Linked DNA regions of Homo sapiens. The protein of the gene in region 1 purifies or fractionates together with the protein of each later gene. This does not show direct contact. Each region holds a gene or a part of one and is shown on either strand. Other genes may lie near its edges.

Region 1 (3,697 bases):
ATCTCCATCAAAGACCAGTAAGCTAGCTGGCCCTTTCTGCAGAGTGCATTACGATGAGCTTCCCACTTTGCTTGCTTAGGTTTAGGAAGCCTGGAGATGCACTCTGCTTGGGTCTGGGCCCAGATGCCAATAGGAGCCATACTGTGAATGGCTTAAGAAGACTAGACTCACTGAACTTGGAAATAAACACTGTATCTGAATTGTGGTTAGTCCTTCCTCATTTGCTGATACAACCATGTCTGGCTTAATTTGGTGTTTATTCTGGTTTTTGGTAGAAGGAAGAATAACGGAGAAGGAGATAAGAGATCATATTTCAAAAGAGACTTTGTTCTATATTTGTGGCCCACCTCCAATGACAGACTTTTTCTCCAAGCAACTGGAAAACAACCATGTACCCAAAGAACACATTTGCTTTGAGAAGTGGTGGTAGGAGGCAGACAAAGGCAGAAAAAATAAAGAGGTGAGATCTACTCAGGAGAGCTCCTGTCCTTTGTGGCATGATTAATTTTTTTTATCTCTACTTGAGTTGTCTTATTTTTTAAGGCTATAAACTTAGTGACCAGCTGGATAATAAAAGCCAGCTGGCAGACTTAAATGATAAACTTTTTGCAAAGACCTCAGTGATCAAACTATTTTTTACTATACTGATTTTCTGTTATTAACAACGATTTAATTGTCTCATGATGTACCATGATTGGTCAGTATAGATTTTTCTTTTGTCTTTAGGCAAAAAAAAGATATATACTTATGTCTAATCATAGGAAAATGTGATTTTTGAGTATAAAATGTGGGCTAGCTTTAAATTATTTGACAGCCATCTATATATCTTATGTTTAATGAAAGTATAATTTAAATACAATCTTAATAATTTTACTTTGAAAATTCTTTTTATTTAATGCCTTTGTTTACTGTACCATGGCCTACAGTCTTATTTGGTCCATCAAAGTTAAGTTTGGACATGGAAAATTGTTAGGAAAACTGCTTTAGGGAGTTAAATATCCAGCATATTTGCTTTCTTGTTAATGAATATCCTAAGTGTGTATCCTGACTAATTGTTAGTTTCTTCTCAAATGAAACCCTTTCTGTGTCTTGGCTGTCTGCCTTAACGCTGTAGGAGGCAGCTTCTTGCTTGGGACAAAGGCATTGGTGATGTGTTCCATGTTGAATCTGCCTTCAGTGCCTGGGCTGGCTTGCTATGGAAATGTGCTTAGCATTGATTAGGGGGTAGAGAGCTGTTTCTAAATCCTGCTTTTCTACTTTTTATTTCACTCATTTGCCAGAATTGTTCTTGGCACCAGCAGCTCCTTAACATATAGTTGTTGAATGACTGAAAGAAAGCAACTAATGTTTTAACTCCTTGCTAAGTCTGAGATTGGGAGGCAGTCCCCTAGAGTGGATAGAAAGAATGGTGGAGCCTCATCCCAAAGCTGCTCTGATGAAACTGCTAGAAAGCAGATTGTAGTTCTTTGTTTAGATTTTTAAAAATCCAAAAGAAGTCCTGACTGAGGCCAGGCCATTCCTTTTATGACAAGTAGTCCTGGGCCCAAGGTTGCCTGCATAGAGATCACAGGAGGGTGAAGGGAGCCTGGGAAGAAGGACAGATAAGTGCTGGAGACCTAGGAGCTCCAGTTGAGATTCTGTTCTGGAGCGGATGAGAGAAGACAGGTTACCCTTTCTTATCTTTGTTGTTGCAGGCCTCCCAGGGACTTGTGGGCTTGAACAGATATGATTCATGGGACCTGAAGGTGACTCTAGCTTCTGCCCAGTTTTGAGTTTTGTCAAGTTTTAAGCAGAGATCATTTGTCAACTATTTTGATCCCAGATTTGAATTTGGGGAGGAAGGGAGGAGCTACTGACCTGATGGGAATATCATAATCCATTCAAGGAAATGGTCATTAGTACCTCAGAGGTGAAGGGAATATGTGAAGCTCTGGATCACTACAAGGAGCCCTGACTTACCAGTTGGCCCCAAAGTGCCCAGGCTGAGGGCATAGGAGCATGATGAGATGCAAGGATGTGGGATTATCAAGGGGCACGTCTACTAACTGGTGAAGGCAGTCTGCGGGGGAGGACACCTAAAGGTATGCGGAAAGTACCTAACCCAGACCTCTCTGCATTAGGAGTGGAGGTGCAAAGTGAGCATCTCCAGTGCAGCATGGGATGGGAAGATAGGGAGGTGTCGCCCACTGTCTCGGTTTAGCCAGCACCACGGCTGGCTGTGTGCCTGCTACTGTCAGAGAGCAAGGGTCATCTGTCCTGCCCAGCTATGCCTGCCACCCTGTTGCTGACTCAGTATTGGCAGAATTGCTGAGATGGGCCAGGTCATCACCTTTGCCTGGAGTGTTCATCCTTTCAGTGCCATTATTCTGGTGCTAAGTGCTGAAGAACATTTTCAGGTCTAGCCGAGAATGTCCTCTTGCTCTTGCCTGCCAGGCCTGTCCAGATCTTTTTGGTACTTAAATTGAGCTAACTCCAGCCAGAGTGGCTTGGAATTCATAGTGCGGTGGCTCAGAGTATAGGCTCGAAAGCCCTTGAGCCAGATTGCCTGGGTTCAGATCTCACCTATACTACTTACTAGGTAGATGACCTTGAGCAAGTCACTTAACTGCTCTATGCCTCATTTAAAATTACATACAACTACATGTAAAAGGGAGATGATACTGCTGCCTACCTACCTACATGATAGGGCTGTTACGGGGATTGAAGGTGATCATACATGTAAAGTGCTTGGCAGAGCACTGCATGAGTGTGTTGTCGTTATTAATTTGCTATTCCTTGTCCTATTCAGAAAGGATTTCAAGAGGCTGGATGCCTTAGATGTGGTCTAACTTGAAACCTTCATGTGGGTGTGCGTCTGTCTTGTTTATTGCTGTGCCAGGCACAAAATAGGTATTTCATAAATATTTGTTAATATGCTCAGAGTTGATAAGCTGGATTAAAGTGACTTCTTAAGGATCCTCTGGCTCTATGAGTTTGAAAAAATGTTTCTTCTTTTGACATAAGACCCTTTCCCAGCCTACTCAAGGGACTAGGTTAGTCTGATATTTGTATCTTTCTCAGATTTTATTTATATTTTTTCAAACATATGACAAAGTAGAGATAGTAAAATGACTTCTCGTGCATCCATCACCCGGCTTCCATGACTAGCAGCATTCTGTTTTTGTCAGCCCTCAGCTTCTTTGTGGGGGTGTTCTTCTTGCTGGTGTGTTTTCAAGCAAAGCCTAGCAATTGTATCGTGTCACTTCTAAATTCTTCAGTATATATTTCTAACAGATACATCACCTCAGCACAACCACAATGTCATCATCATACCTAACACAAGTGACAATGATTCCTTAATATCCTCTAAGACCCTTCTGTGTTGTTTCCTCATGGCCTCAAAAGTCCGAATATTGCATTAGGTTAATGTCTTTTATTTTAATTAATTAATGGCACACTCCTTACACCCCCTACACATATACATGGACACTTTTTTTCCCCCATGATTCATTTGTTAAAGAAACTGACTTATTTGTTCTGTAGGCTTTCCCACATTTTGAACCTGGCCTATTGTATCCTCAGGGTGTTGCTTGATCCTCTCTCCTCTGTATTTCATGTAAACTGGTAATTAGATTTAGAACTTGTTTATATTCGGATTCAAGATTTTTTTTTTGCAAGCCTGTATTATAAAGTGGTGTGCTTCCTGTGGCATCACATG
Region 2 (3,821 bases), on another chromosome or scaffold:
CCTCCAAAATATATCTTATTTTTGATAGTGGGTTTTTTGTATTCTGGGTTTTGTTGTTGAGAGACAGGGTCTACATGTAGGAATGGAATCGGTAGATCATAGGATGATTCTATGTTCAATTTTTTGAGGAAGCACCATACTGTTTACTGTAGAATTACCACTACAGGCGCCTGCCACCTGCACGGCTAATTTTTGTATTTTTGGTAGAGATAGGGTTTCAACGTGTTGCCCAGGCTGGTCTTAAATTCCTGAGCTCAAGCAGTCCGCCCACCTAAAGTGCTGGGATTACAGGTATGAGCCACTGCATCCTGCCAAGGGGGCATAATTGACATTTATTCATAAAAATATTGAGACTTCAGGCCTGGCATGGTTTTTTGGGATTTTTGGTTGTTGTTTTTTTTTTGAGACAGAGTCTCACTCTGTCGCCCAGGCTGGAGTGCAGTGGAACATTCTCGGCTTACTGCAACCTTTGCCTTCCAGGTTCAAGCGATTTTTCTGCCTCAGCCTCCCTAGTAGCTGGGACTACAGGCAAATGCCACTACTCCTGGCTAATTTTTTTGTTTGTTTGTTTGAGACAGAGTCTTGCTCTGTCACCCAGGCTGGAGTGCAGTGGCATGATCTTGGCTCACTGCAAACTCCGCCTCCCGGGTTCATGCCATTCTCCTGCCTCAGCCTCCCGAGTAGCTGGGACTACAGGTGCCCGCCACCATGCCCGGCTAATTTTTTGTATTTTTAGTAGAGACAGGGTTTCACCATGTTAGCCAGGATGGTCTCGATCTCCTGACCTTGTGATCTTCCCACCTCAGCCTCCCAAAGTGCTGGGATTACAGGCGTGACCCACCACGCCCGGCCAATTTTTGTTTTTTTAATGGAGACGGGATTTTACTATGTTAGTCAGTCTGGTCTCAAACTCCTGAACTCCTGATCTCAAGTGATCCACTTGCTTTGGCCTCCAAAAGTGCTGGGATTACAGGCAAGAGCCACCACGCCCAGCCAACTATTTTTTGTTCTCTTGTTTTTTTGTTTTTAAGAGACAGGGTCTTGCTCTTGCAGTGGTACAATAACTCACTGCAGCCTTGAACTCCTGGGTTTAAGCAATCCTCCTGCCACTGTGCCCAGCCGAGGGGGCATAATTGACATTAAAAAATATTGAGTTTTCGGGCCCGTCATGGTGGCTCACGCCTGTAATCCCAGCACTTTGGGAGGCCAAGGTGGGTGGATCACTTGAGCTCAGAAGGTCAAGACCAGCCTGGGCAACATGGCAAAACCTTGTCTCTACAAAAAATACAGACGTTTTTTGTATTTGTGGTGGCACAGTGCACCTGTGGTCCCAGCTACTCAGGAGGCTGAGGTGAGAGGATTGCCTGAGCCTGGGAGGCAGAGGTTGCAGTGAGCTGAGATCATGCCAATGCACTCCAGCCTGGACGACAAGAGACCCCGTCTCAGTAAATAAATAATGCCTCCAATTCATTTATACATCTTTACAATGGAATTTCTGGCAACTTTGATAAAGTAATTCTAGTTCACCTGAAAGAATTGATATGTGAGAAAAGCCAATGAATTTTAGAGCAATCAAGGGAGAATTTATTAATACAGTATATAATAGGAAAAGACATTGGCAGTCTGGCCAATGGAACAAAATACAATAGCCCCAACCATTCATAGAAATTTAATTTTTGATAAATAGAGCATTTCAGAGGAAAAGGATTCTGTCAGTAAATGGTGTGTTAAGAAGGCTGGGTGTGGTGCCTCATGCCTGTAATCCCAGCACTTTGGAAGGCCAAGGCGGAAGGATCACTTGAGCTCAGGGGTTTGAGACCAGCCTGGGCAACACAGCAAGACTTCCTCTCTACTAAAATAAAAATTTAAAAAATTAGCTGGGTATGGTGGTGCACAGTCATAGTCCCAGGTACTTGGGAGGCTGAGGCGGGAAGATCACTTGAGCTCAAGAGTTTGAAGCTGCAGGGAGCCATAATTGAGCCACTGTACACCAGCCTGGACAACAGAGTGAGACCTTATCTAAAAAAAAAAAAAAAAGACTGAGAAAAGAACAAGTGGCCAAGATACACAAAAAAATGTTCAATCACTAGTAATTAATGTAAATTAAAACTACTAGACATTGCCAGGCACAGTGGCTCACACCTGTAATCTCAGCACTTTGGGAGTCTGAGGCAGGTGGATCACGAAGTCAGGAGATCGAGACCATCCTGGCTAACACAGTGAAACCCTGTCTCTACTAAAAATACAAAAAATTAGCCTGGCGTGGTGGCACACACCGGTAGTCCCAGCTACTCGGGAGGCTGAGGCAGGAGAATCACTTGAACCTGGGAGGTGGAGGTTGCAGTGAGCCAAGATCCCACCACTGCACTCCAGCCTGGGCAACAGAGCAAGACTCCGTCTCAAAGAAACAACAACTACTAGACATAACTAAATTGACATAAAAATGATATAGGACGGATGAAGGAAAAGAGGCATCATTCCATCAAAACTGTTGTTGGGAGTACAAATTGATGTAATATAGGACCCTTCTGGAGATCAGTTTGGCAGTGGGTATCAGATTTCTTAGAAATATGTATGCCTTTTGATACAAAATACCATTTGGTGAAATCTACCCTAAGGACTGACGGAGGTACACAAAAATCTTGCAACAAGGCTATTCATTACATCATTCTTACAGCCAACAACAACAAAAGGAAATCCAAATGTTCATTTGAGCTATGTAAACTTAAAATTATTATTTTTTCTTTTTCAAGAGATAGGGTCCTGCTTATGTTGCCCAGGCCACAGTACAGTGGCTATTCATAGACGTGATAATAACACACTCCCGGGCTCAAGCAAGCCTCCCGCCTTAGCCTCCCAAGTAGCCGGGACTACCAGTGTGTGTCACTGCCCCCAGCTAAATTATTGTATTTTTGTAAAAGAAGTACTATTAAGTCATTTTAAAAGTTGGATAAAGCCGGGCGCAGTGGCTCACGCCTGTAATCCCAGCACTTTGGGAGGCTGAGCCAGGTGGATTGCCTGAAGTCAGGAGTTCGAGACTAGCCTGGCCAACATGGTGAAACCCTGTCTCCACTAAAAATAAAAAAATTAGCTGGGTGTGGTGGCAGGCGCCTGTAATCCCAGCTACTAGGGAGGCTAGGGCAGGAGAATCGCTTGAACCTGGGAGGCAGAGGTTGCAGTGAGCTGAGATGGCGCCACCGCACTCCAGCCTGGCGGCAGAGCAAGACTCTCTCAAAAAAAAAAAAAAAGTTGGATAAATGGGCCGGGCGTGGTGGCTCACGCCTGTAATACCAGCACTTTGGGAGGCCGAGGCGGGCGGATCACCTAAGATCAGGAGTTCAAGACCAGCCTGGCCAACATGGTGAAACCCCGCCTCTACGAAAAATATAAAAATTAGCTGGGTGTGGTGGTGGGCGCCTGTAATGCCAGCAACTCAGGAGGTTGAGGCAGGAGAATTGCTTGAACCCAGGAGGCAGAGGTTGCAGTGAGCCACAGTCATGCCACTGCACTTCAGTCTGGGTGACAGTGAAACTCCATCTCAAAAAAACAACAAAAAAAAAATGTTGATAAATGTACTCACCTATGAGATTCATTGATATTCATAATACTGTCTGACAAAAAAAGAAGTTACCAAACCTACCAAAGAGTTTTGTCTGCATATGTAGTTGGGCCTGGAAAGGTAAACCACTGGATAGCAACTGTCTTTAGGTAGGAAGGTTTCGTGGCTATTTTCATGTTCTTTTTGTATCTCTGTATTTTCAGATTAACTCAGTTTTCTAATGAATATAGATTCTTTTGTAATAAGGAAAAATAGAGAAACT

The links.
Region 2: the proteins of OXNAD1 (region 1) and SRR purify together in Homo sapiens (affinity purification with mass spectrometry; 2 studies listed by BioGRID and IntAct, with this or other methods). This does not show direct contact.

Annotation. Positions count from the first base shown.
Region 1 is NC_000003.12:16,303,133-16,306,829, forward strand, and holds the end of OXNAD1 (oxidoreductase NAD-binding domain-containing protein 1 isoform 2 precursor), read left to right. Parts: intron 1-275; coding exon 276-430; 3' UTR 431-2,955; downstream 2,956-3,697.
Region 2 is NC_000017.11:2,310,194-2,314,014, forward strand, and holds part of SRR (serine racemase), read left to right. Parts: intron 1-3,821. UniProt on the Homo sapiens protein: Catalyzes the synthesis of D-serine from L-serine. D-serine is a key coagonist with glutamate at NMDA receptors. Has dehydratase activity towards both L-serine and D-serine.